4 linked regions of the Homo sapiens genome follow. The protein of the gene in region 1 binds, or shares a complex with, the protein of each later gene. Each region holds a gene or a part of one and is shown on either strand. Other genes may lie near its edges.

Region 1 (7,413 bases):
CATGTTGGCCAGGATGGTCTTGATTTCTTGACCTTGTGATCCACCCGCCTCGACCTCCCAAAGTGCTGAGATTATAGGCGTGAGCCACCGTGCCCAGCCAGACATTTTCAACTCTGCATGTCTCAGGTCGGGATCCAGATCACCCAACCACCCAAGCCTACCCTATCTACAGCGTTCCCCATCTGCTTTGATGGTAACTCCATCCTTCTAGTTCTCTGGGCAAAAACTCTTTTGTCAACTTGATTCCTCTTTTTCCCTCACATCCTACATGAAATCTGTAGGAAATGGCCGTTTCTTACCATGGCCTAAGCCTCTGTCATCTCTGTCCTGGAATCTTTCTGGTCTCTCTGCCTCCACCCACGTTCCCTGACAGTCTGTTCTCCACAGAGTGGTCTGAGGGGGTTGTGCTAAAACCTAAATCATAACATGTCACTCTTCAAAACCCTCCCAGGGTATGGGTACAGTGGCTCATGCCTGTAATCCTAGCACTTTAGGAGGTCAAGGTGGATTGATCACTTGATGTGAGGAGTTCGAGACCAGCCTGGCCAACATGGTGAAACCCCATTTCTACTAAAAATACAAAACAAAACAAAACAAAACAACAATAAAAAAAACAACCAACAGAAAATTAGCCAGGCGTGGTGGTGCACGCCTGTAATCTCAGCTACTCGGGAGGTTAAAGTAGAAGAATTGCTTGAACTCAGAGAGTCGGAGGTTGCAGTGAAGTGAGATCATGCCACTGCACTCCAGCCTGGGTGACAGAGCGAGACTCTTGTCTCAAAAAATAAATAAATACAAATTAGAAAATACAAAAATTAGGCCAGATGCGATGGCTCACGCCTGTAATCCCAGCACTTTGGGAGGCCGACGCGAGGTGGATCGCCTGAGCTCAGGAGTTCGAGACCACCCAGGGCAAGATGGTGAAACCCTGTCTCTTCTAAAAATGCAAACAAATTAACCAGGTGTGGTGGCGCATCCCTCTAGTCCCAGCTACTTGGGAGGCTGAGGCAGCAGAAACGCTTGAGCCCCAGCAGCGAAGGTTGCAGTGAGCCAAGATTGCGCCACTGCACTCCAGCTTGGGCTACAGAGTGAGACTCCATCTCAAAAAAAAAATTAGGCCGGGCGCGGTGGCTCACGCCTGTAATCCCAGCACTTTGGGAGGCCGAGGCGGGCGGATCACGAGGTCAGGAGATCGAGACCATCCTGGCTAACACGGTGAAACCCCGTCTCTACTGAAAATACAAAAAATTAGCCGGGCGAGGTGGCGGGCGCCTGTAGTCCCAGCTACTCGGGAGGCTGAGGCAGGAGAATGGCGTGAACCCCAGGGGGCGGAGGCTGCAGTGAGCCGAGATTGCGCCACTGCACGCCAGCCTGGGCGACAGCGAGACTCCGTCTCAAAAAAAAAAAAAAAAAAAAAATTAGCTGGGCATGGTGGCGCATGCTTGTAATCCTAGCTACTTTGAAGGCTGAGGCAGGAAGATCGCTTGAACCCAGGAGACAGAGCTCGTGCTACTACACTCCAATCTGGGTGACAGAGCGAGACTCCATCTCAAACAAACAAAACAAAAGAAAACCCTCCCATCCTCCCCCCATCTCAGTGTAGAAAGTAAAACCCCGACCAGACACGGTGGCTCACACCTGTAATCCCAGCACTTTGGAAGGTCGAGGCGGGTGGATCATTTGAGGTCAGGAGTTTGAGACCAGCTTGGCCAACATGGTGAAACCTGGTCTCTACTAAAAATACGAAAGTTAGCTGGGCATGGTGGTGGGTGCCTGTAATCCTAGCTACTCGGGAGGCTGAGGCAGGAGAATCGCTTCAACTCAGGCGGCGGAGGTTGCAGTGAGCTGAGATCGCACCATTGCACTACAGCCTGAGCAACAGAGCAAGGCTCCGTCTCAAAAAAAAAAAAAAAAAGAAAAAGAGAAAAAGATTTTTCTTTTCCCTTGGGGACTAGAGGTTTCATTCACTGATGTATCCTATGTAGCTTAAGCAGTGTCTGATACATAAGCATTCAATGTAATATCTGCTGCACTAATAAATGCGCAAAATCATGTCAATGACTCGTTCGTTATCCGTGTAAGTTGTGAATCAAGTCGAAAACGCACCCGTCTCCAGCTCAAATGATCAAGATAAGTCCCTTATTTCAAATAATTATTTCTAAAAGTCCTAACTTCCCTCCCCCATTATTCGTTTTATTTCTTTTGTTTCGTTTTGAGATGGAGTCTTACTCTGTCGCTCAGGCTGGAAGTGCAGTGGCGCAATCTCGGCTCACTGCAACCTCCGCCTCCCGGGTTCAAGCGATCCTCCGGCCTCAGCCTCCCGAATAGCTGCAATTACAGGCGCCCGCCACTACGGCCGGCTAATTTTTGTATTTTTGTTAGAGACGGGGTTTCACCACAATGGCCAGGCTGGTCTCAAACTCCTGACCTCAGGTGATCCGCCCGCCTCGGCCTCCCAAAGTGCTGGGATTTACAAACCTGAGCCACCGCGCTCGGCCTCCCCCAGTATTCGTAAAATCGCTGCCCCTTAACATTCATTTCAATAGGACTAATTATCTAGGACCACTCCCGTTATCGTTTAAAACATGTTTTTCATAATTAAATTTTTTTTTTTTTTTGTAGAGACGGGGGTCTCGCTATGTTGCCTAGGCTAGTCTCGAACTCCTGTGTTCCAGCGATGCTCCGCCTTGGCCTACTAAAGTGCTGGGATCACAGGAATGAGCCCCCGCGCCCAGCCCAGGGCGTTATCTGATAAAGCTGTCCCCTCTCCCGAAGTCACGATGCGTCAAAGGCCCCACGCCCGTTCTCAAACTCATCAGGAGAAAAGCAGGACGCTGCATCCCTAAAACATCTGCCCCTGCCCCCCCCGCTCTGCTCAACCCTTCCCACACTCAATCGGTCAAATATCCACCCTCAACCTCATTCCCGCCGCCTAAGCCTAGCCCGGCCTCACATGATGGTCACTACGCTCTCCGTTCACTCCCGTTTCCTCCGCGTTGCTGCTGCCTGAGGAGAGAGAGGCGGGACTTCCTCTTCCTGCGACCCACTTCCGTTGGCGCCTGCGCAAAGCCAACCAGTAAGTGGAGGCGTGGCCTGTTGCCACAGCATTCCCCACCAACGGTGCACAATGATGGAATAAAAGCTTCGGGTAGGGGTTCGCGGCCAGTCAGAACCACACGGGGGCAGATGTTTATGACAATGAAGACAAAAGGAAAGGCAGTCTGATTCAAACCGTTTCTTGAAGAATGGTACAGGTTGAAGGAGGGAAATGACAAGCTATTTCCAAATGCCCGCCGGCCGTGACTTCGGGGGCGCGGCCTCCGTGAAGCCAATCCGCTCCTCGCTTCGGAGACAGGCACCGCCCCTCTTCCCTCTGGGACGCGTTACTGACGTATCTACTGATCTTTCCGACCCTGCGCCACCAATCCCCTGCCTACATCCGGAAGGGGCATGGACCTGCGCCCGGGAGATCGAATATTTTCCATGATCAAACGCTGTTCATTGGCTTTCCCTCCTCCGCTAAGGCGGAGCCTACTTCTCTTGCGCTCCCATTTGGGTCGTGCCATTCTCAGGGGAACCAACCCCAATACCTAAGGGAGGCTGGGAGGCGTGTCCTCAGGACCGTAGTTCTTATTGGTTTCGCTGCTCGCTGTGGGGTGGGCTGGTGCAGCCGCAGCTGTTGCTTATTGGCCCACCGATTCCATGGGGAGGAACTTGGCTGGGCCTAAACTCAATCCGTGGTCTGGTACAGGTTTCAGGGCAAAGCGGCCATGCGTTCCGGGGGCCGCGGGCGACCCCGCCTGCGGCTGGGGGAACGTGGCCTCATGGAGCCACTCTTGCCGCCGAAGCGCCGCCTGCTACCGCGGGTTCGGCTCTTGCCTCTGTTGCTGGCGCTGGCCGTGGGCTCGGCGTTCTACACCATTTGGAGCGGCTGGCACCGCAGGACTGAGGAGCTGCCGCTGGGCCGGGAGCTGCGGGTGAGGCTGGGCGGGGACCCGGGCACCGCGGGGACCCTCATTCCCTCCCCGCTGTTACCCAGGGTTGACGTGGCTTTAGCGTACGGCCCTAACCGCAGATGCCACCGTCTTCGTCATCTGAGCGCATGACCCTTACCAAAGGAATAAGGCTTCGGGCTGGTTCTGCAACAGTAGCTTCCTTTTAAGAGGAAAGGTCTGAAATAGTAAGACGGGGGGGTTCAGGGTTCTACGCCTTTAGTCAACTATTTGGAAGAGTCCCTTCCTCCATCTCCCCTCTCTCTCACTGGGCCTCGATTTCCCCATCAAGTTTGAGGTAGGCTGGACCGGATGGTCTTGGAAGGACTTTTCCTGAGCCTTGGATTTATCCTAGAAGTCTCCGATGCTGGAGGCGGCAGATTAGGAAGAGAACCCGGGGCTCCTCGCGGGTGACGGCGCCCGGGGTAGGGTTGAAATGGGGGGGTTGCTCTCATTCTTCCCTTCCCTATCCCACCTCCTTCCCAAGGTCCCATTGATCGGAAGCCTCCCCGAAGCCCGGCTGCGGAGGGTGGTGGGACAACTGGATCCACAGCGTCTCTGGAGCACTTATCTGCGCCCCCTGCTGGTTGTGCGAACCCCGGGCAGCCCGGGAAATCTCCAAGTCAGAAAGGTAAAGGGACCCACCTCCAGTCCCTGACCCCCTAGCCCTCCAGGGAATGGGAAATAAGAATCCTGTTCAAGATCCCAAAGAAGCTAAGAGGAGGAACTGGGGCTCTGACTGGAGTTAATCGGACTCTAGACTCCATGCTGGTAACAAACCACCAGGCTGTACTGCCCCCCTTAATGCCCCCACCAAAAGCTTACTGTGTGCTAGGCATAGGCAACAGACAGCCCTATAAGGTGGGTACCAATATGATCTTCATTATGCAGATGGGGAAACTGAGGCTCAGAGAGGTTATACACATTGCACAAATCCTACAGATAATAAGTAGTAGACCTTAGCCGGGTGCAGTGGCTCATGCCTGTAATCCCAGCACTTTGGGAAGCCAAGGTGGAAGAATCACCTGAGAAGTTTGAGACTAGCCTAGTCAACCTAGTGAGACCCAATGTTTAGAAAATCATAGACCTAGAGTTGAACCCAAACAGGTTGGCTCCGAGCTGGTGCTGTAATGTATCTGTTGTCTTCCAGAAAGCATGAAGAGTCATTTAAAGGCCAGGCGCAGTGGTTCACACCTCTAATCCCAGCACTTTGGGAGGCCGAGACAGGCAGATCCCTCGAGATCAGGAGTTTGAGACCAGCCTGGCCAACATGGTGAAACCTCATCTCTACTAAAAATACAAAATTAGCCAGGCGTGGTGGTGGGTACCCGTAGTCCCAGCTACTTGGGAGGCTGAGGCACGAGAATCACTTGAACCCAGGAGGCGGAGACTGCAGTGAGCTGAGATTGCGCCACTGCACCCCAGCATGGGTGACAGAGCGAGACTCCATCTCAAAAAAAAAAAGTCACTTAAATACTGCCTGAGTCCCAATGCTACCTCATCCACTTAGATTGTGACCTTGGACTGGTTTCTTTTTTATTTTATTTTATTTTATTTTATTTTGAGATGGAGTCTCACACTGTCGCCTGGGTTGGAGTGCAGTGGCGCGATCTCGGCTCACTGCAACCTCCACCTCCCAGGTTCAAGCAAATCTCATGCTTCAGCCTCCTGAGTAGCTGGGATTACAGGTGTGCACCACCATGCCTGGCTAATTTTTTGTATTTTTAGTGAGACGGGGTTTCACCATATTGGCCAGGCTGGTCTCAAACTCCTGACCTTATGATCCGCCCACCTCAGCCTCCCAAAGTGCTGGGATTACAGGCGTGAGCCACCGCGCCCGGCCTGGACTAGTTTCTTAACCTCTCTGAGCCCATTTCCTCATCTGTAAAATGGGGTCATGTATTGGCAGTCCCTCCCCTAAATGGTTCCTAGAAGAGGGCTTAGCACACAGTGAGAGCTATTTAAGGGTAAGCTGTGATGAGTCTTGCTGGCTTCAAGAGGTGGGGTCTCCCCAACATCTGGCACCCAGTAGGTACTCACCAGCACTGTCAAGGGAATGATTTTAATCAGAGTAGGGGGCTGGGCACAGTGGCTCACATCTGTAATCCCAACACTTTGGGATGCTGAAGCAGGCAGATCACTTGAGGTCAGGAGTTCGAATACCAGGCTGGCCAACATTGTGAAACCCCATCTCTACTAAAAATACAAAAAATAGCCAGGCGTTGTAGGGGGCGCCTGTAACCCCAGCTACTCAGGAGGCTGAGTCAGGAGAATCACTTGAAGCCAGGAGGCAGAGGTTGCAGTGAGCCAAGATCAAGCCACTGCACTCCAGCCTGGGTGACAGAGCAAGACTCCATCTCAAAAAAAAAAAGAAAGAAAGAAAGAAATCCATTCAATCAGAGTGGGGCTTTAGTGTCAACCCATCTGCTCTGCATGGCTCAGGTCACGTGGCCCTTCTCCCCACCTCCTCCCCAGTCCCCGTCCACCCTCCCACCTCTCTCTTGCCGCTAGTTCCTGGAGGCCACGCTGCGGTCCCTGACAGCAGGTTGGCACGTGGAGCTGGATCCCTTCACAGCCTCAACACCCCTGGGGCCAGTGGACTTTGGCAATGTGGTGGCCACACTGGACCCAAGGGCTGCCCGTCACCTCACCCTTGCCTGCCATTATGACTCGAAGCTCTTCCCACCCGGATCGACCCCCTTTGTAGGGGCCACGGATTCGGCTGTGCCCTGTGCCCTGCTGCTGGAGCTGGCCCAAGCACTTGACCTGGAGCTGAGCAGGGCCAAAAAACAGGTGAGGAGCAGGAGTCGGGGAGGGTAGTGGGCTACCTCCACCTTTTCCCAAGCCCCCACCCTCCCTTGCCTGGACATTTGTCATCCCTCTCGTCTTCCCACTCTACTCCACGCACAGAGCCACAGGGATCTTTTTTTTTTTTTTGAGACGGAGTTTCGCTCTTGTTCCCCAGGATGGAGTGCACATGGCGAGATCTTGGCTCCCCGCAACCTCTGCCTACTGGGTTCAAGCAATTCTCCTCCCAACCTCAGGTGATCTGCCCACCTCGGCCTCTCAAAGTGCTGGGATTACAGGCGTGAGCCACCGCGCCTGGTCATCACAGGGATCTTTTTACCTTCTAGATGTCAGATTCTCTTTCCTCTCCCCCAAACCCTCCCAGGGCTCCCGCCTCATTCCAGCCATAATCCAGAGTCCTTATATTGGCCCACGAGCTGTGCCCTGTTACCTCTCCAGCCTCATCTCCCACCCCTCACCTCTTGCTCACTCTGCTGTAGCCACCCCCACCTCCTCTGGGTTCCTCAAACCCGCAGAGCTTGCTCCCACCTCAGGGCATCTGCACTTGCTGTTTGCTTTGGATAGAATGTGCTTTTCTGGCCAGGCTCCGTGGCTCACACTTGGAATCCCAGCA
Region 2 (7,024 bases), on another chromosome or scaffold:
GGAGTGCTTAGTTCTGCTCTTGCCGGGTAGTTGGTTGGTGCATGTGTGGTACAGCCACTCTGTAGTATACATCTTGAGCACGTGGGAAAGGTAAGACCTTAAGAGGGAATGCTTCGAGGCTCCACGGGCCCTCAGAGAGACAGGAAGAGCCACAGCACGCAGTGTCTGCTTCCCAGCAGCAAAGTGATTTCCCACTGTTGCTGCACAGCTCATAAATAAATCCAAAAATGGCACAGGGTTTTATTAGCTGCTCTTCATCTTTACCTCTAAGAACAGGTCACTGGTACCCTCAACTCTTCCTAGAACTCTAAATGCTAAATGACTCAAAAGCTTTAAAATCATGCAGTGAATGTTAGGTTAAAATGTTGTGCAGTGACCTTGAGCCGCAGCACTCTTCTAATTGTTCCCCATCCGGCAAGCATCTACTATATGGAACGGAGAAAGGCGTAAAGACAGAGGGGACTTTGCCTTTGAGTTAGGGTGGGTGGTTGTGTCAGAGCTGGAGGTAATGAAACCGTGTGTAGAGTGGCTCATGAGGCCTGGGGATAGTCGAGACTTAACAGTGGGAATGCTGCTTCTTTGCTTAGTCGGCTGGCCGGTTGATGCGAGCGATATTTGAAATTGTCCTGAACCGAGGTTGGGCACAGCTTACAGACAAGACCCTGAACCTCTGCAAGATGATCGACAAACGCATGTAAGGACCCAGTGAGCTGGATGCTGGTCACCATGAGTGGGGGTCCCCAACCCAAGGGTCTGATGGGAAAGCCTCAGGGTGCATCTGATCTCCAGACCTGACATCGGAAGTATGACCTGAACCTTGGTGCACATTGAGAAGAGGGAAGGCCCTCTGTGGTGGAGGCCAGGGCTGGCACAGTGTCAGTGTCTGCCTTTAATGACTGTGTTTTGTGTAGTCACTGCTAAACTATTGGAAGCCATGAAGTGGGTGGTTTGTCACATCCCTGCAGAAGGGACCAACAGCTTTGCCTCCTTCCTGGATAGGTGGCAGTCCATGTGTCCTCTGCGCCAGTTCCGGAAACTCCCTGAGGAAGTAGTGAAGAAGATTGAGAAGAAGAATTTCCCCTTTGAGCGTCTGTACGACCTGAATCATAATGAGATTGGTGTGTGGGATGCTCTCGCCCTTGTCCTCACTGCCTGGGTGTCTCTCCCAGTTTGCCTATGTAGTCTTCCTGTTCCTAGGCCTGTGCATTAGTATCCTGTGTTCACTCCCCAAGTCCCACTGAAGTACAGGCTGGCCCTTGGTCTGGGGACTTGGAATCCTGGGCTCCACTGACCATAAAGGGAAGACCCTACCCCTTTCCCACAGTGGCCCTCAGGCCCAGTTTGCAGTATAGTAGGCAGGCTGGGCTGCAGCCTCAGTACTCTCATTTCCTTGTAGGGGAGCTTATCCGCATGCCAAAGATGGGGAAGACCATCCACAAATATGTCCATCTGTTTCCCAAGTTGGAGTTGTCAGTGCACCTGCAGCCTATCACACGCTCCACCCTGAAGGTGGAGCTGACCATCACGCCAGACTTCCAGTGGGATGAAAAGGTGAGGCTTTGCTGGGCAGAGGTGCTGGATTGGAGGTGCTCAGTCTACGTTGCTGGGCCGAGGAGATGGATTGGAGGCACTCAGTCTACGTTGACTCACATTCCTTTTACCCTTGCTCCTGTTGGCAGGTGCATGGTTCATCCGAGGCTTTTTGGATTCTGGTGGAGGATGTGGACAGCGAGGTGATTCTGCACCATGAGTATTTTCTCCTCAAGGCCAAGTACGCCCAGGACGAGCACCTCATTACATTCTTCGTGCCTGTCTTTGAACCGCTGCCCCCTCAGTACTTCATCCGAGTGGTGTCTGACCGCTGGCTCTGTGAGTGTCTCCTCTCCAGAGTCCCCAGGAACAGTCCCTCCAAGGACAGTAGAAGAATGTCTTGCACTTTGTCCCGGGCTTGCCCTTGCTGGGGACAGAGTGATACATATGCTGCCTAGGTTTCCAGTGTTCATGGAGGGGATCTAGAGGCCAGTGAGGGAAAGAGAGCAGTGCTTATATCCTTCCTGTTTCTTTTCTGGCAGCTTGTGAGACCCAGCTGCCTGTCTCCTTCCGGCACCTGATCTTGCCGGAGAAGTACCCCCCTCCAACCGAACTTTTGGACCTGCAGCCCTTGCCCGTGTCTGCTCTGAGAAACAGTGCCTTTGAGAGTCTTTACCAAGATAAATTTCCTTTCTTCAATCCCATCCAGACCCAGGGTAAGTGTTTCCATCCCTCCTCTGGAGGCTTTTGAAGTCACCGGGAGACAGATGTGCTCTGTGGCAGGCAGGGGAGTGGGGGTGCTCAGGCACTTGGGAGGTCTGGGAGCTCCTCAGTGTGACCGCTGGGACCCACCAGGACTTTTTCCTTTGTCAGAAGCCTTTGGTTGCTTTGCTGCTCTGCATGTGTCACTGTGGAGGGGCAATAGAGCAAGGCCTTACATGGCATGGTCATTTCTCGGGCCCAGGAGGCTTAGAGGCCTGCCCCTGGCGCTCAAGTATTGAACCAGAACCATGGGGTGGCACTGAAGCCTCCTCACCACATCATGATAAATAACGGGGACATTCACAGAGCAGGCACTGTTTCCTCAGTCCATGGCTGAGTACATCACCGGTGTTTTCTCTCTTATTCCTCCCATCAAGCCTAAAAGGAATCTCTATTGGAGATACTGCCATTAGTGTTCCTTTTATAGGTGAGGAACTGAGGCATAGAGGGTTCCCCAGTTGAACCAACTGATAAATAGTAGAACTTGGATTTTAATTCAGTCTTGATGCCAGGGATAAGGCTCTTACTTTCTACCTTAGGCTATTTCTAGGAAACGCAGGAGAGTGTTGAAGGGGCAGAGAAAGGGATCCAGTTCCTTTCTGTCCCGCATCCTAGTCCCTGAGAAGCAAAGAAGAATGTGTGGCTTCTTTTGCTTTGCTTTTGTTGTCATCCCACACATCTCCAGGGGACCTGGGCTCTTGATCTTGGCCTCTTCCCCTTTAACTGTTAAGTGGGAGCAGGTAAGGGGGTACAGTAGGGCTGGCCTGGAGTTAGAGGCTTGGATGCCTTAGCTCCTCTGTCTGCACTCCAGAACTGCCTGACTTCATTTCGTATGTTGTCCTTTGTTTTGACAATTGATCCATGTCCCAGTCCGTCTCTTCTTCCTTCTTGATACTTACACTGCTTCTTTCTGTTGGTTTCCAGTGTTTAACACTGTATACAACAGTGACGACAACGTGTTTGTGGGGGCCCCCACGGGCAGCGGGAAGACTATTTGTGCAGAGTTTGCCATCCTGCGAATGCTGCTGCAGAGCTCGGAGGGGCGCTGTGTGTACATCACCCCCATGGAGGCCCTGGCAGAGCAGGTATGACGTGGCGCTGTGTCATGTGAATTTCCCAAGAAGCATTTCATCTGTGATTCCGTATGAAGGCTTTCTAAGCCCTGAAATTTGCAGGGTCATTTCCTCAGTTTGTGTATTAAAGAAAAGCTGCCCCAGCCAAGCGTGGTGGCTCACGCCTGTAATCCCAGCACTTTGGGAGGCCGAGGCGGGCAGATCTCCGGAGATCAGGAGTTCGAGACCAGCCTGGCCAACATGGTGAAACCCTGTCTCTACTAAAAATACAGAAATTAGCTGGGCGTGGTGGTGTGCGCCTGTAATCCCAGCTACTTGGAAGGCTGAGGCAGGAGAATCGCTTGAACCCGGGAGGCGGAGGTTGCAGTGAGCCAAGTTCGCACCACTGCACTCCAGCCTGGGCAACAAGAGCGAGACTTCATCTCAAAAGAAAAAAAAAAAAGAAAAAGCTGCCCCATCGCATCGCATAGAGGCTGCTATGGGATTAGAACGTAGCTTGAGATCTGCAGGTCAACAGGTCTGTTTGGCATCTCAGGTTTTCCTCACATAAGTGAAAGATGCCTGGTATGGCCTAGTGTTGTTCTGCCTCCCTCCTCTGCCCGCCAGGTATACATGGACTGGTACGAGAAGTTCCAGGACAGGCTCAACAAGAAGGTGGTACTCCTGACAGGCGAGACCAGCACAGACCTGAAGCTGCTGGGCAAAGGGAACATTATCATCAGCACCCCTGAGAAGTGGGACATACTTTCCCGGCGATGGAAGCAGCGCAAGAACGTGCAGAACATCAACCTCTTCGTGGTGGATGAGGTCCACCTTATCGGGGGCGAGAATGGGGTATGGCGTGACCTTGCAGCACAGATGAGGGACTGGGACTGACCAAGTGGCCTTGGCATTGGACCTAATGTTTGGGTCTGAGGACGGAGGCTCGGGGCTTCTCCCCAGAGGATTCTACCTGCTGCCCTATTCCAAAGGGACAATGTTAACTTTTTTGGTAGTACTTTAGGAAAACAGTATTGTTTAGTGGAGGTTGGCTGCCGTGGAGGAGGTAGAACCAAACACATGAGAGCTCCTAGTTAGAAGGAAGAATGAGGTCATTTTGAGGCTGTTGGGCTGTTCACAAAGGGGACCTCCAGGCAGAGGATGGGAGCCTTGGCCTGCAGTGACCCTCCCTCCCTCCCTCTTTCCAGCCTGTCTTAGAAGTGATCTGCTCCCGAATGCGCTACATCTCCTCCCAGATTGAGCGGCCCATTCGCATTGTGGCACTCAGCTCTTCGCTCTCCAATGCCAAGGATGTGGCCCACTGGCTGGGCTGCAGTGCCACCTCCACCTTCAACTTCCATCCCAATGTGCGTCCCGTCCCCTTGGAGCTGCACATCCAGGTAGGACCCACTCTCCTCATCCGTCTGTGGGGTGTCACATAGATCCTGAGTGACCCAGGTCTGATAACCTTGGTGTCTTTTCTTCTCCCCGGTCGCCAGGGCTTCAACATCAGCCATACACAAACCCGCCTGCTCTCCATGGCCAAGCCTGTGTACCATGCTATCACCAAGCACTCGCCCAAGAAGCCTGTCATTGTCTTTGTGCCGTCTCGCAAGCAGACCCGCCTCACTGCCATTGACATCCTCACCACCTGTGCAGCAGACATCCAACGGCAGAGGTAGGTGGGGCCTGGCGTCTGGGGGTTGGGGTTAGGTTAAGTGAGGCTGGCCTACTCCAAGGGTGTCCTCTTTATGAGGGTGGGGTTAGCCCATGTTGCTTGGGGCCAGGTTCTGCACAGCTGGCAAAGTGTCTGCCAGGAATTGAACTACTCTGAGCTGAGCCAGTGCCTGTACCGCACAGGTTCTTGCACTGCACCGAGAAGGATCTGATTCCGTACCTGGAGAAGCTAAGTGACAGCACGCTCAAGGAAACGCTGCTAAATGGGGTGGGCTACCTGCATGAGGGGCTCAGCCCCATGGAGCGACGCCTGGTGGAGCAGCTCTTCAGCTCAGGTAAGTCAGGCCACGGAAGGGGAGCATAGCAAGGGTATCACCAAGTGGTGGTGTTAAACTTGAGGGGTGCGGGTGGCAGTGTTTTCTCTACAGCATACCAGAGATTTTCAAAATACTGTTTAGGACTCTTGGCTGTTAACTCATTTGATCCTCCCAAGAACCTCGTGAGGCAGGTGAGACAAACACTATCCCTACTTGCCAGGTGAGAAAACAGGCAGACACATCAGGTTGTGCTATTTCAGAACCTGGTTTTCTAGAGTCCAGGACCTTTGGCCACCAGACCGCTGATTCTCCGTGGATACCAGACTCCCCAAGTGTATTAGTCCGTTCTTGTATTGCTATAAAGAAATACCTGATACTGGGTCATTTATAAAGAAAGGAGGTTTAATTGACTCAGTTCTGCAGGCTGTACATGAAACATGGTGTTATCTGCTTCTGGGAAGGCCTCAGGGAAGGCAAAGGGGAAGCAGGCATCTTATATGGCAGGAGTCAGGACCGAGAGAGTGAGTGGGGAGGTGCTACACACTTTTGAACAACCAGATCTCGTGAGAACTCATTCACTAGACAGTACCAAGGGTGGGTGGTGCTAAACCATTCATGAGAACTCTGCCTCCATTAGCCAGTCATCTCCCACCAGGCCCTTCCTCCAACACTGGAGACTACAGGTCGACGAGATTTGGTGGAGACACAGATCCAAACCGTCTCACCAAGATAGTTAGACTTTAGAGATTAGCACAGAGGAGAGCTCTGATTCTCCCTTGAGCTCACTCTTGCTGGCCACTGTCTCTTGTTGCCCTGTGGCATTTTGTGCAAAGATTTACGTTTTAATACTGTTTATTGGAGCCTCATTGGAGATTCTTCTGCCAGAATCACTTCCTGTCACTCTTTGGCCCTTGAATCTGCCTGTTTGGGGCATGCTTAGAGTGATCTCTGTTTTGCTGGCATGGCTGAGCCAGCCCGTGGCTGCATGAGTGTTAGCACTTTCTGGTCAGAGGAGCAGTCCATCAGCTGTAGTTTTGCCTTGGTGTTCCTGGGCTTTGGGTTCTGTTCTATGATGACTTGTTTTCTCCTGGATAGTCCCAGAGCAAGGCACCAGCAGCGTGGAGCTACCTCATAGCAATGTGTTAGCTCTCATTCATGTTAGACCTTGTTCCTAGCCAGCCTTGCTGTGAGTTCTGAAACATAGCACAGGGTAAGCCACGGCCTGCCCATGAGGCAGTGAGCCTACTTCACCCGGAGACCCCTGCCCTCAGCCTTCCTCTCCCCTCTACTGCTCAGGGGCTATCCAGGTGGTGGTGGCTTCTCGGAGTCTCTGCTGGGGCATGAACGTGGCTGCCCACCTGGTAATCATCATGGATACCCAGTACTACAATGGCAAGATCCACGCGTGAGTACAACTGGTGCTCTGTGTTAGCACAGACCTCCTTCCTAAAATGAATGTGAATCTGCAGATACACAGAAAGTAAGCTAGGATGAAGAAAAGGTGTTAGGGAAGTTAACAGCTGAGATGCCACCAGAGCCAAGTGTTTGAGAGTTTTGTGTCTCAATACCTAGGCTCACATTTGCTTTTTAGTCATTGTGCTTCCTTATTCAGCAGCTGGGAGAGGTAGGAAATTAGAGCCAGGAGGAATGTTTGACGTTACGTCATTAATCTCAGACATCTTGTAG
Region 3 (7,024 bases), on another chromosome or scaffold:
GAGAGAATATTCACAAACTGTGCATCTGAAAAAGGTCTAATGTCCAAAATCTATAAGGAACTAAAACAATTCAGAAAACGAAAACCAAGTAACTCGTGGCCAGGTGTGGTGGCTCACTCCTGTAATCCCAGCACTTTGGGAGGCTGAGATGGGTGGATCACCTGAGGTCAGGAATTCGAGACCAGGCTGGCCAACATGGTGAAACCCTGTCTCTACTAAAAGTACCAAAATTAGCCACGCTTGGTGGCAGGCACCTGTAATCCCAGCAACTCAGGAGGCTGGGGCAGGAGAATCGCTTGAACCCGGGAGGTGGAGGTTGCAGTGAGCTGAGATGGTGCCATTGCACTCTAGCCTGGGTGACAACAGTGAAACTCCATCTCAAAACAAAAACAAAAACAAAAATACACACACACAAACAAAAACCCATTAAAAAAATGCCAAAAGACTTGAACAGACACTTCTCAAAAGACAACATACAAGCGGTTAACAAACATGAAAAAATGCTCAACATTACTAATCAGATAAATGCAAATCAAAACCACAATGAGTTACAATCTCACACCAGTCAGAATGGCTATTATCAAAAAGTCAAAAAAATAACAGATGCTGGTGAGGCTGTGGGAAAAACGGAATGCTTCAACACTGTAGAAGCCAGTGCAGTGTAGAATGCGCCTACACTGATGGAAATGCAAATTAGTTCAGCCACTGTGAAAGCAGTTTGGAGATTTCTCAAAGAAGTTAAAACAGAACTACCATTTGAACCAGCAATCCCATGACTGGATATAAATCCAAATGAAAATAAATTGTTCTACCAAAAAGACACATACACTCACATATTCATCACAGCACTATTCACAACAGCAAAGACACAGAATCAACCTAGATGCTCATTAATAGTGGACTGGATAAAGAAAATTGGTACATATACACCACAGAATACTATGCAGCCATAAAAAAGAATGAAAATCATGTCTTTTGCAGCAACATGGATGCAGCTGGAGGTCATTATAGTGAATATACACAGGAACAGAAAACCAAAGACCGCATGTTCTCACTTATCAGTGGGAACTAAGCAATGGGTACACATGGACATAAAAATGAGAACAGACATAGGGGACTACTGGAGGGAAGAGGGGAGGGAAGGGGTGAAAAACCACCTGTTGGACTCTATGCTCACTACCTGGGTGACAGGATCATTTGTACCCCAAACCTCAGCATCACAAAATATACCCATATAACTCACCTGCACATGTACCCCTACATCTAAAATAAAAGTTGAAATTATAAAAACAACAACAACAACAAAAAAAATGAAATGTGAGTTAGGCAAGTCCAGATTCTAGCTGATCCCTGAGAAATGTACTTTTCTCCAAGTCAATGAATCCAATCTTTAATGGATCTGGGATGCTCTCTGACCAGGTCCTGTTATGAGTTTCCTGTGTTATAATTAAAAACCCCAAACTGATTAAGCATGAGAGGATACTTCCTGCTCTCAGATAAATTATTTATTATATTCTGTATTATCCTTGTAATTTTTCTGGATATGAATAAATAACAATGTATCTCAGAAAAACACATTTTGAAAAGCCTTATAAAGTTAAAACTTTAAATGCTTTTCATCAAAATGTTATGACCAATAAAAATGCCATTCATGTATCTCATCACACTTTCTATACATTTTGTAGTGATATGTATTTATACATACTGCAGTTGGAAATAGGGAATGCTTTTTTGGTTTCCCACGGTAGGCTGCAGGTTTTAAAAGCAGAAGTCCTGAACCTCTGAAGGCAACATAAGAAAAGTATTCATTTGAAACCTGTAGTGTTAAAAAAAAAAAAAAAAAAAAAAAAAAAAGAGAGAGGCCAAGTTCTGTGGCTCACACCTGTATCCCAGCACTTCGGAAGGCTGAGGCCAGAGGATTGCTTGAGATCAGAAGTTCGAGAACAGCTTGGGCAACATAGTGAGTCCTCATCTCTACTAAAAATAAAAACTAGCTGAGCACAGTGGCACACGCCTGTAGTCCCCAGCTACTTAGGAGGCTGAGGGGGAAGAATTGCTTGAGCCCAGCAGATGGAGGCTGCAGAGAGCCTGATGATACCTCTGCACTCCACCCTGGGCAACAGAGTGAGCTCTTGTATCCAAAAAAAAAAAAAAAAAACAAACAAATTTTAAAAAGGGAGAGTCAAGATGTTTGCTCTATTTATTTCTTTTAGGGGGCAAGACAGGAGGTAAAAAAAAAAAAAAAAAAGTTTGGTTTTTGCTTCAAAGAGCTTTTCTCAGAGCAGGGATTTATTTTCATTACATGCAACATGGACAAACACTGTTCTGGTTTTCATGACAATTTGAATTCAAAGTAATATGTTTTTCTAAAATTCAGTGTATTTATTTGGCCATATGGATGCTCCTTGTGTTCTTGGTCACATATTAAAGAAACTGGCACTTTGGCTGCAAGAACAAATAAAAAATATCATAAATCCAACTGGTCTTTGATTTGGGTCTAGGTTAATAACTAAAGAACCATTCAGCAATAATGGCTTGAAACATTTATATATCCTATGAAACCGCAATTAGTTAAGAGGCTGCTGATTCTAATAACTATGACACCAGCAAGGGAGTGAGGGGAGAAATGTTAACTCTGGATGCCAAATTCAGAGCAAAGTATCTATTATCTCCTTCTCACTTTTGCAGTATCTATAAATAAAGTGGTGGGGGGAGAATTATATGAATAATGTTAAATAAAAGTGCATACAGAACTGAGAAATATTTTCATGGAATTTGCCACTTAGTTCTTAAAATTCTTATAAGGAAAATAACCATTTACAACAAAAGACTAGTTACACTGTTGCTGTTTAGAACATGAGAGCAAAATGAGTAACAATCAAATTCTCTGGTTTAAACTTAATTATCTTAAAACATGTTATTCTGTAAGTTGACATCTATGCCTTGAAAATTCAAGGCAGAAAGTAAAATCATTTAGAAAGCCAGAAATTCCATCAATACATCTAGACAGATGTTTGCTTGTAGTTTTTGGTATCCAAAACCTTTTTTCCACACATCGCACAGATGCCTGAAACAAAAGAAGATATGTGATCAATCAAATCATAATACCAACTGTTTGGTTTAAGTCAATCCTGAAGCTTAAAACATAATTTAACAGCATCAGGAAAGAAAAGAAAAGAAAAAAAAAATATATATATATATATAATTTTAATTATAAACAGGTTTTAGGTTCTATTTTGCCTTAGGATAAAGAGAGTGTTTGGCTAACAGAATTTATGACAGGCTACATCTTTTCTGTTAACCAAATTAGCAGCAAATGAAGTCGGTTTTATGAATAGAAAACGGTATTAAAAGAAACTTACCTTTTTTGTAGGCACAGCCCTGGCAGTAATGAGAACCTGGTTGGTGCACAGAACTTTTACAAATTCTACAAGTGGAGAACTTATTCTTTCCATATGGATCAAATCTAGAAATTTTTTTTAAAGAGAGAAAATTGTATATTACACTAGAAACACTCTTAAATAACCCCACTTACGCAACACACAGGATTAATCCATGCTCTCCATCCCTCCATCAACCTCTACAATTGATGGGTTTAGCCTATTCCAGATGGCTACTGTCTGATATGCCTGTACATCTCTGCTCTGCTCCATCCATGTGAGATATATACTTATAAAGAATCAGTTGTACAGTATTTATTCTTGACGTGTTCATATCAGTCGTATCTGTCATTCTATTTGTGTGACATAAATATTATGGAAACTGATGAAATGTGGGTGCAAAAAGAGTGACTGATTCCATATAACCTAAGTGACTATTTTAGGATGACTAGGAATCATATGAATTGCTATTGAATTAGGTATGGGTAAGACAACTGTTGAAAACTGGGGGAAAATCACTAGGAAAGTAACTCCACACCTCAAGCATCAATTTTTGCTCTACTTTAAAGAAACTGAACATATTCTGATTGTGATTTTTGTGACGACAATCATGTAAAGCACTTATCAGTCGATTTATGCTCAAAAGGCTTTGTTTCAATACCAAATGATTAATGCATCTACAGTTATGCGCTTTAATTTAAAATAAAGTATGTGTATCTTTTAATGACTGCTTACATTAGCTGACATTTTTAATTAACTGACTCAATCCTTTTAGATAAAAGGGCTTCCACTATATAAAAATGCCATCTTATAGTGACAGGAGTGAAAAAAAGAAATACTTTCCCCTAAAATGGCAATAATACTCTGATTTAAATGTGCTTCCCTAACATTTTTACAAAATGAGTTTTTGTAATGATCCTCATATACTAGATACGAAACACCGTCCTAGAACTGGTGTCTTCTCTTGGGTATAGTACAACAGCCCATTTACAAAGGTTAATTTTTCCAAACACAGAGAATATCACTTTTTTTTTTTTGAGACTGAATCTCACTCTATCGCCCAGGCTAGAGTGCAATGGCGCAATCTTGGCTTACTGCAACCTCTGCCTCCCAGGTTCAAGCAATTCTCCTGTCTCAGCCTCACAAGTAGCTGGGATTACAGGCATGCGCTACCACGCCCGGCTAATTTTGTATTTTTAGTAGAGATGGGGTTTCTCCATGTTGGTCAGGCTGGTCTCGAACTCCCAACCTCAGGAGATCCGCCTGCGTTGGCCTCCCAAAGTGCTGGGATCACAGGCGTGAACCACTGCGCCCAGCTGAGAATATCACTTTACTCCCCACAAAAGATAGGTACTCTTCTTCCTTTCAATAAGTTCAATTTGTTTGGACATGTATTTCCAGAGGCTATTTTTTCTTAAAACCATATTTTATTATTCAAAAATACACATTGTAACCTTGGAAATCTTTTTTTTTTTTTTTTGAGACGGAGTCTCGCTCTGTCGCCCAGGCTGGAATGCAGTGGCGCAATCTCGGCTCACTGCAAGCTCTGCCTCGTAGGTTCATGCCATTCTCCTGCCTCAGCCTCCCGAGTAGCTGGGATTACAGGTGACCGCCACCACGCCCGGCTAATTTTTTTGTATTTTTAGTAGAGACAGGGTTTCACCATGTTAGCCAGGATGGTCTCGATCTCCTGACCTTGTGATCCGCCTGCCTCGGCCTCCCAAAGTGCTGGGATTACAGGCGTGAGCCACCGCACCCGGCCTAACCTTGGAAATCTTAAAACTGGCAGAGTTTTTTCTTAAAGTAACAATGCATCTTATAAATAACAGTACCATAGATTCCAAGCAATACTGTAGTACATTTTCCAAAGTAAGAGAGTACCCAAGAGTTACAGCTACTTTTTAATGATATCAGAGTAAGTTTGAGAGCATAAAGGAACTGGAAGTATATAAAAGCATAAAATCTGTACAAATAATAGCTCAGTCAATAAAAACAGAATGGTTCTCAAAGACCTCAATAAGTCAGTCAATAATATATAGTGTGAATCTGCATTAAAGATGCTATTATGTGCTAGGCACTGTATGTAGTTAAGGCTTTATTGTTGTTATTTCTAATCCTTGGGATGACATCAGAAAACAGGTATTTATTCATTCAGCAAATATATACTGAGTGCTTAATATTACATGGTATTTACTGTTCTAAATACCAAAGATGAACATGATAGGCAAAGCCCTTGCCCTCATCAGATAATATTGTAGTGAGAAGAGGTAAACAGTAAGTAAGGAAACAGACAATCTAATAAAACAAGCAAGGTTTTCAAATAGTAGTATTATAGAGAAAATTCTAACAGGATACTAAGGCAGAGATGAGGAAAAGGAAAGAAGAGATTAGTTTAGATGCTGATTAGGGAAACTTCTCTGAAGCTGAGACCCAAACAGCAAGAAGGAGGCAGATACGTAAGCTCTAACGGAAGACTCCTAGGAGACAGCAGCAAGTACAAATCTCTTTGGATGGGAGTGGGCTTGGCAGAACTAATAAAGACAGCATATGATGAATGAGGAGCAGTGTGGTACAATACGAAGCCGGAGAGGTGGGAGGGGTCATATTAAGGAGGACCTTGTAAGAACATGGTAGGGGGCTTAAATTTTATTCTATGTGAAAAAGAAAACCAGTGGCGGATTTTAAGCAAAGGAACTTTGTAAAGGATCACTCTCGTTACTATGAGACAACTGCGGGAAACTAGAGAAGCAGGAAGATAGTTCAATAGTTATTACAGTTCCAAGTAAGAAATAACAGTGGTTTGGAAAAGGGTAATAGCAGTGAGATGTACAGAAGCAGGTGGTTTCAGGTTACATTTTACGTTTTGGAGGTAGATCCAAAGAACTTGCTGATGGATAGGGGAAGTAGGGGAAAGGGAGGACTCAGTGAGGAATTCTAGCTTTTAGGCTTGAACAAGTGGATTAGAGAGTGGTGCTACTATGATGAGAAGACGGAAGGAAAAAGAAGTGGCCTGTTAGACATTAAATGAGGTATGTCAGATAAACTGCTAGATATACGTTTAGAGCTCAGAGAAGTCAGGCCAGAGGTATAAATTTGGGAGTTATATATATATAATAATATTATAATATATATATAATAATATTATTACATATATATATATATAACATATAGCTTGAATTTAAAGCCAGTAGATTGAAGTCACTCTAAAAGGTCACTTGTGATCTCGACAAGAACAGTTTCAGGGCTGTTGTGGGGATAACACATGACTAGAGTGGCTGAAGGAGGGAAAGGAACTTAAGGACACTGAAAAAGTGTCTAGGTAAGACTTTGGAAAACTTCTGATGTGAAGGGGAGCAAAGAAATCAGATGGCAGATGAAAGGGTTCACGAAATTTTTTTTCTGAAAGAGACTCTCACTCTGTCAACCCAGGCTGGAGATCAGTAGTGCGATCCTGGCTCACTGCAGCCTTGACCTCCCTGGGATCAAGTGATCCTCCCACGTCTGCCTCCTGAGTAGCTGGGACTACAGGCGCGTGCTGCCACACCCAGTTAATTTTTCTGTCCTTTGTAGGACAGGGTTTCACATGTTGCCCAGGCTGCTCTCAAACTCCTGGGCTCAGATAATCTGTCTGCCTTGGCTTCCCA
Region 4 (7,024 bases), on another chromosome or scaffold:
CACAGTGATGCATTTTGTATTTCAGATGCCCATGCCTTAACTTGAATAATATTTTCAATTTATTGTCCACTTGTATTTAAATGGAATTTTGTACTACTCATCATATCCCTAACTTGGTCATGGTTTGTTCATGGTGCCTGGAGCTAGTCCGAGAAAGAAGTGGCTATTGGTAATACATTCATGCATCCCTCTTATAACTTTGAAGCCTCCCTTGTCGAATTTCCCTACTTTTCTGTTTATCTGAGCATGGGAGGGTGGTGGAACAATAAAGCCAGAGAGCATACTAGTTTCAGCAAACTCCCAGACTTAAACTTTTTCTCAGTATGTACATTTCCCAAGTGGACATTGGAAGAGACATTTGAATACCTACAACAAAGTACAAACTTTAAGCATGGATTATAGCTAGCCTTTATATAATAAAGTTAATAAGTCTTTCCTAGTGAACAGATACCAAAAACGGGGTATGGGCTGCCTTGGCCTTGGGACATATTAACTCCTGTGGAATGGGTTAGCTAGTGGGGAGGAGGAACTCGGTGACTCATGTTTAACCTGTCTTTCAGCCTAACTTATAAATGGGTGGAGCTAGACAGAGTTCAGCACTTCCACCTGAAAAGTTACCCTGTGAGTCCTTCCTGAAATAGTTTGTCAGGATAGCTTTATTTTAGACCTGGCTACAGGAGCCTCTGTAGTAGAATGCAGTGCTTGCATGTCTAGGGGCTAAATTTCTCTGTGGAGGCCAACACCTCCAAGTTTTCTTTAAACCAGAATGTGGTTTACTACGTGGCTCTCTAATTAAATAACCAGGTGACTTTCAAAGCTGTGCCTTGAAAATTGGCAGAATGTGTTCACCCATATACTTAATTAGGCAAGCTGAGGAACAGATTTGGGACAGGAGAGAGTGGTTTGAATGTGTGATGAAGGCATATGGCATATTCAGTAATTAGGGTTGATTTTGTAAGTTAAAAGAACTGCACCTTCAGGGACAGATTTCCTTTTGCAGTGCCTGCAAAGGAACTAGTATTTTTTTCATCTCACTCAATGAGGAAGTGTTTTCAAGCTGTTCCACAGGTTAACATGGAGTGAAGACTAATAGGGGGTGGCATCTGATAGTGTTGTCTTGATGTACTAAGACTTGGAAATCTTAGTATTTCCAAGAAGTAGGAGTTAATAGGTGAGACAACGCTGCTGTTGTATTCCTTGATGAACAAGTTGACAAAATGGCATTATAGGAAGTTCTATGTAGGCAGAAATTGGAGTAATCAGCAGAAATCTACACTCCCCGTTTTTTATTTAATTTTAGACTTGGAACTTATTAAGTAGCAGACACTGTCCTAGGTTCTGGATATGTAGCAGTGACCAAGAACCTTGAGGATCCAGTGTACTCATACAGAGCCTTTCATAGTTTAGCTTAATGAGTCTCTCATGTTCCATCTTATTCATGTTCAGTTTTTCATGTACACCTTGGAATCCCCAAATTCTCTGTCTCTGAGTCTTTACACATGCTTATCGTATTTCCTGAATGACCTTTTCCCCTTTCGATATGGATAATTCCTACTTGTTCTTTAAGACTCAGCTTCAAGACCTACTTCTTTCTGTATGTCCCAAACCCTCTTTTCCAGTAACACTTGTTTATGACATTGTTGTAGCACTTAGACATTTCTTCTTTACCCAAGGACAGAGTCCTCAATGCCTTGTCTGTTGTGTAATGTATATATCTCCCCACCGTACATAGACACTGCCTTTAGTAAAGACCATGACTGTACTTTTTCTCTTAGCTTCATACTTCCTCATTTTCTCTGTAAGCATTTTTCTTTTTTCATCTTCTTTTACTATTGTTTTGAGATGGGATCTCACTATGTTGCCCAGGCTGGGACTCTAGGCACATGCCACTGCACCCAGCTTTTCTCAGCCACTGAATATAAATATCAATTATGGCCCTAGCCTAAATGGAACCTTCCCCCAGCCTCCTATATACAGTGACAGAATGAGGGGGAAACATGGGCAGATTTGGTAGAATCAGTAGGATTTGGTGACTTACAGGGAGTAAGGAAAAGGAAATTGCCACCTGGGAAGCTTTGTAAGTCATATCTTAGAAGAAGAGCTGGTTTAAGATGGGGAGAAGGAAATAATTAGTTCCACTGTGGATTTCTTTAGTTCAGATGGCCTTTGGCACATCCACTTAGAGGTTTCCTGTAGCAAATTGGACATCATGATTTGGAACTCTAGAGAAGATTGGCTGGAGTAAAAAGTTGTTTTCGCATGTTAATTAAAGCTATGGGGATGGAGATGATCTTCCACAGATAATATGGAGAAAGAAAAGATAAGGACTATTCATTCATCCATTTAACAAATATGTATTGAGAGCCTCTAGTGTTGGGAATGTAGCAATGAACAAAACATAAATTCATGAGCAAATACTAAACTCTCAGGCATAGTAAATATTAAAGGGATGGACAAATGAAGGTGGTGTCCCTGTAAGTTGACAAGTGAGAACTTCAAGAAGGGGATTAGGTGCCAAATGCTAGAGCAATGTCCCATAAAAGAAGGAAGCTGCCCCTGGATTTAGCAACAAGAAAAAAAGTTACTGTGTAACATTGGTAAGTGCTGTGGAGTAGTGGGAAGGGAAAGCTGAATTACAGTGGGTAGGAGAGGTTAAGAATTAGAGACATCAGGCTGGACATGGTGGCTCACTCCTGGAATCCCAGCACTTTGGGAGGCCCAGGTGGGCAGATCACTTGAGGTCAGGAGTTTGAGACCAGCCTGGCCAACATGGCGAAACCCCATCTCTACTAAAAATACACAAAATTAGCTGGGCATGGTGGTGCGCACCTGTAATCCCAGCTATTCAGGAGGAGGCTGAGGCATGAGAATCACTTGAACCTGGGTGGTGGAGGCTGTGATGAGCTGAGATCATGCCACTGCGCTCCAGCCTGGGTGACAGTCAGACTCTGTCTCAAGAAAAAAAAAAAAGAAAAAAAAATTAGAGGCATCAAGTGTGAACTTACATATCACAAAATAGCTGTGTAGGGATGAGACAGTAAAACTAGAGAGGGGACAGGATAAAGGGAATTTGCCCCATAAATATCATAATTTATTTTTAAATGAATCATTAAAAAGTTCAACATGTAGAATTTTTCTTTAAAACCAACTTAAATAGAAATCAATACTGTACTGTAAATCAAGAGACAGCTTATTGAAATGTTGAAACTAACAAAAATAGACAAATTTCTATTCTCATAGATCCTGCATTCTGTTGAAAAGAAGCACATTGGGGAATCTTCCTATGCGTAAAAAAATTAATAGTATTTCCAAATGATTGGATCACTTAACTCTTTATTTGGTTACTTAAACAGCCTAAAATAGACTAGCTTCATGATACAGGAAATGAATGGGGGTAATACTACCTCCCAATTTATAATGTGAGGTTTTCAGTATAGATAATGGTGTCACTGGGTTCATTAAAATGTCTTTTTTTTTTTTCACTCCTCTGTGTCTTACTGTCTTAAAGTGTCTGAAAATTTGGGCTGTCTACTCTCCACACAGAGTTGCAGACCAGTCAAATGCTTTTATATTACTTACTTCTTACAGAAAACAATGTCCAGAACTGTCTGCACAACTTCTAGCCCTGTACTTGAACCTGGCAATCTAGTCATTCAAATGGTTATGAGTCAGCACACCTGGCATATGCAATGACTATGAAGCAAAAGGGAGGACAGCTCTGCAACTCTTTATTTGTAATTTTTGGAGCCAGAAGTGTTTTGATTTCAGTATCTTGTAGATTTTAGAAAACTGCAGTGCCTATACTACATATTAAGTAATCCCCCCTTTTGGGGTCTGGAGTAACATCCTCTAGTCAAAACACATTAATATTTCTGCACTGTATCAAGTCACATTAAGTATCAAGTCAGTATATGCTAAGTTTTGCTCTCAAGTGAGTTGCCACATGCTTAAGAATAATCTTTGTATTTTCAGAGCTTTACAGATTTTAGAACTGCAGATAAAGGATTTTCAACCTGTACCTGGTGACTTTTCTAGAAAGAGACAGGAGTATTTTGACCCTTTTATTTTCTTGAAATTGTGATTCTATGCTGACATCAAATTATAATTTTTTGGCCTTATGAGGTATATCATGAGGCAATTTTTTCACTAATATGTAAATTAAGACAGGAAAAAATAGCAAGAAACGGTTTTTCTAAAACAAGTAAGTTTTCCTTCAGTACAGATATGGAAAGTACATAGCAATCTTGTTTTATATTGTTCAAGAGCGAAGCCAATCTGTTACTCCTATTTGTTCCCTGAAAAGGAAAATCCGTTCCTTGGGGGCTTGGCTGTTGTTGAGGTATTTTCTGAGAATTCCGTTCCGTTATGTCCCCTCCCATTATATTTTGGCATTTAGAATAATTTTAAGACAGTTTTTATTTTGTATTGTATAATATTACCACTTTCCCCATTGGGCAACTAAGGTTTTTGTTTTGGTTTTTGTTTTTGTTTTAAATATGAACTCTGTTAAAATGTTTGAAATTCACCAAACCTGTTTTTACTATTTAGAAGCCAGAGGAGCCAACTAAAGGTAACTCACTATTGATTCCCCTTTCCTTTAGCAATTTTATGACAATATGTTTCAGCAAGTTCCTCTAACTTGGACTGAGAACACCGAAGTGACAATGGTAGAAGTGTTTTGCTACGGAAATCATCTGGAAAGCAGTGCATTTCAGCCATTAGTTGAATATTTTCTCATTTTCTTAATTTTTGAGATGATTGCAGAATTCACAGTTTTCTGCTTAACAGTCTGACGTACTTATATATGTTATTAAATATTTTGCTTTCTAATGCTTGATGAAACTGAGAGAAAAACTATCTTTTTTTTAATAGTGCTCTCGTGAATACTATATCTCCTATTGGAAAATATCCTTTCTTCGGGAGAACAGGTGTGGTTTTGTTGAGTTGCTTTCTTGTGAGAAGGGGAAAGAAATTTAATAATTCACCATAAAATTCACATAGTGATGCTTAGAAGAGCAGAGAGTGCTATAAACTCTAGATAAATTGCTCTCATTTCAGGAATTTCCGATTAGTGTAAGTATTAGCATGCATATGTTGAACTCAGAATTTCCGAACAGGCATATTCTGCATAAATCTGGACAATGACAATACTTTATTCATTTTTTGTTAGAACTATGATAGCAGTCTACTTTACCATATTGTCATTTTCACACTTACGTTGTGAGACATGGAAATGTAACAGATTGTACTTTATTGCCAGAAATTATTTGCTGATGAAAGTTGAAAGGGGAAAGATGATATCGATCAGAAGAAAACTCACTAAATTGAAATATGTAAATTGAAATATGTAAATTTAAATAGAAATAAAATGCACAGAAATTGCTTGTTCTGAAATGTGTAAGTAGGTTGGGAAGAGGAACCGGGTGTAAGACTCCAGGAGAGTAGCAAAGGAAAACGCTAAATCTTGTGCAATGGGGTCAAGTGATTTTTTATTTTTATTTTTTGCTCATAGTATACCTAGTCACAGTGAATTCTAGGTATGCTAAATTAAATAAAAAGGAATCCTTAAAATTACTATGAATGTTTGAAAAGAAGTAGTGCTTCATTATATTAAATCACAGTCTTTGCTATCTGGAACTTTGAACGAATGGATCAGTTTAGGCTAGGATAATTTTCTGTATAGTAGAGTCTGTACTTGTTTACATTTTATAATTTACCATTTTGGCTTCAATTCGTTAGTGTTGGCATTTTCATTGGGACAAAATATATGGCTTTGGCATCAGATAAACCTGGCTTTGAAGTTTAGCTTCTGCCATTTACTAGGTGTAATTTACGTGGACAAATTGCTTGAATTCTCTGTACTTCAGTTGTTTCACTGAAAAACATGGCTAAAAAAAAAATCACCAGAACAGGGTAATTATGAGGATTGAGGAAGATTGTATAAGTGATTATAAATTGTGGCCATAATTTCTCAAGTTTAAAAAACACTTCTTACCTATGAATTATTAAGAATTAATACATTTGGATTTTCTGTTTCCCTTTCCAATTGATTTACAACTAAGTTCTTCACTATAAAGTAGGTAGGCTGTGGGGTCTCTATATTCTGCCTAAGTGGCTCATGGTTTGAGAACAAATTGAGAACCAAAGTTTCTTATGTAAAATTGAAAAGCTGAGGAGACTTGGGGAAAAGTTGGATTTTGGAGTTACCTTGGGAATACTTTCATAAAACAAGTATGCATGGGTTTCCCCTACACTTTCTGCCCATTTTCTGATTTTGTAAGTCAGAGGTGGGCCCCAATATATGTACAAGTAATTCTCCTGTCATGCATTTTTTCTTGATTCAAGTTGTGTTTAATATAGTGACATCAAACTAGTTTTACACTGTTAAGTAGTGATTTAAAACTGACCTGTAGGAAAAAAGTCCAACCTGTCACCTTGCTTGAGTGGCTTAGTGTTTTGTTTATCATTATAGATTTGTTTCTTATACCTAGAATGTAAGCTTCACATGAACAGATTTTGTTACGGTAGTTCATTGCTGCCTATCCAGTGCCTAGAAAGATGCTGGGCAAATAACAGAAGTGCTGTATTATTTGTTGGGGAACAAATGTACGTATAAATAACACTGGGTTTAAAGGTAATAAAGGATATGTTAGAAATGTTAAATGGTTGTGCTAGTAGAGGTAGGGAAAAAAATACCAATATCTTTGAGCAAAAGTAAGTCGAGTAAAGTTTTGAGTTTTATGGCTCTCTATACCTTTATAGCCATTAAAACAGGAGCTTTGGAAGGAGTCATGCAATTTGGTTTCAACAGAGTCATCTTGTTGAGGCAAATGGTCCTAAAATCCAGCTGAGATAAGGGTTATCCCTACAGGGCTCTCATCCTCAGGTGAGGGAGGGGGTAGCCTCTGTTTTAAATATTTTTTAAAATTCTATTTTAATTTGTAGCCTTTTAAGCTACATTTTGTACTTTTTTTTTTTAGTCATTACTCTAAGGAACAGTATATATATATCCTTAACTTTTCAT

The links.
Region 2: SNRPD2 (region 1) and SNRNP200 share a complex: the UniProt entries of both Homo sapiens proteins name them as parts of the U4/U6-U5 tri-snRNP complex.
Region 3: SNRPD2 (region 1) and CRIPT share a complex: the UniProt entries of both Homo sapiens proteins name them as parts of the minor spliceosome.
Region 4: SNRPD2 (region 1) and CWC22 share a complex: the UniProt entries of both Homo sapiens proteins name them as parts of the minor spliceosome.

Annotation. Positions count from the first base shown.
Region 1 is NC_000019.10:45,688,934-45,696,346, forward strand, and holds the start of SNRPD2 (small nuclear ribonucleoprotein Sm D2), read right to left. Parts: upstream 3,021-7,413; 5' UTR 2,956-3,020; coding exon 2,954-2,955; intron 1,735-2,953; exon of another isoform or gene 1,639-1,734; intron 415-1,638; exon of another isoform or gene 300-414; intron 1-299. Other genes in the region: QPCTL (glutaminyl-peptide cyclotransferase-like protein), read left to right, coding at 3,771-3,977, 4,480-4,623, 6,504-6,785. UniProt on the Homo sapiens protein: Plays a role in pre-mRNA splicing as a core component of the spliceosomal U1, U2, U4 and U5 small nuclear ribonucleoproteins (snRNPs), the building blocks of the spliceosome.
Region 2 is NC_000002.12:96,281,533-96,288,556, reverse strand, and holds part of SNRNP200 (U5 small nuclear ribonucleoprotein 200 kDa helicase), read left to right. Parts: intron 1-587; coding exon 588-694; intron 695-999; coding exon 1,000-1,118; intron 1,119-1,396; coding exon 1,397-1,551; intron 1,552-1,679; coding exon 1,680-1,869; intron 1,870-2,072; coding exon 2,073-2,246; intron 2,247-3,216; coding exon 3,217-3,377; intron 3,378-3,971; coding exon 3,972-4,199; intron 4,200-4,552; coding exon 4,553-4,744; intron 4,745-4,843; coding exon 4,844-5,022; intron 5,023-5,204; coding exon 5,205-5,356; intron 5,357-6,634; coding exon 6,635-6,743; intron 6,744-7,024. UniProt on the Homo sapiens protein: Catalyzes the ATP-dependent unwinding of U4/U6 RNA duplices, an essential step in the assembly of a catalytically active spliceosome. Plays a role in pre-mRNA splicing as a core component of precatalytic, catalytic and postcatalytic spliceosomal complexes.
Region 3 is NC_000002.12:46,620,206-46,627,229, reverse strand, and holds part of CRIPT (cysteine-rich PDZ-binding protein), read right to left. Parts: intron 3,467-7,024; coding exon 3,363-3,466; intron 3,068-3,362; coding exon 3,003-3,067; 3' UTR 1-3,002. UniProt on the Homo sapiens protein: As a component of the minor spliceosome, involved in the splicing of U12-type introns in pre-mRNAs. Involved in the cytoskeletal anchoring of DLG4 in excitatory synapses.
Region 4 is NC_000002.12:179,997,277-180,004,300, reverse strand, and holds part of CWC22 (pre-mRNA-splicing factor CWC22 homolog), read left to right. Parts: intron 1-4,394; exon of another isoform or gene 4,395-4,570; intron 4,571-7,024. UniProt on the Homo sapiens protein: Required for pre-mRNA splicing as component of the spliceosome. As a component of the minor spliceosome, involved in the splicing of U12-type introns in pre-mRNAs. Promotes exon-junction complex (EJC) assembly.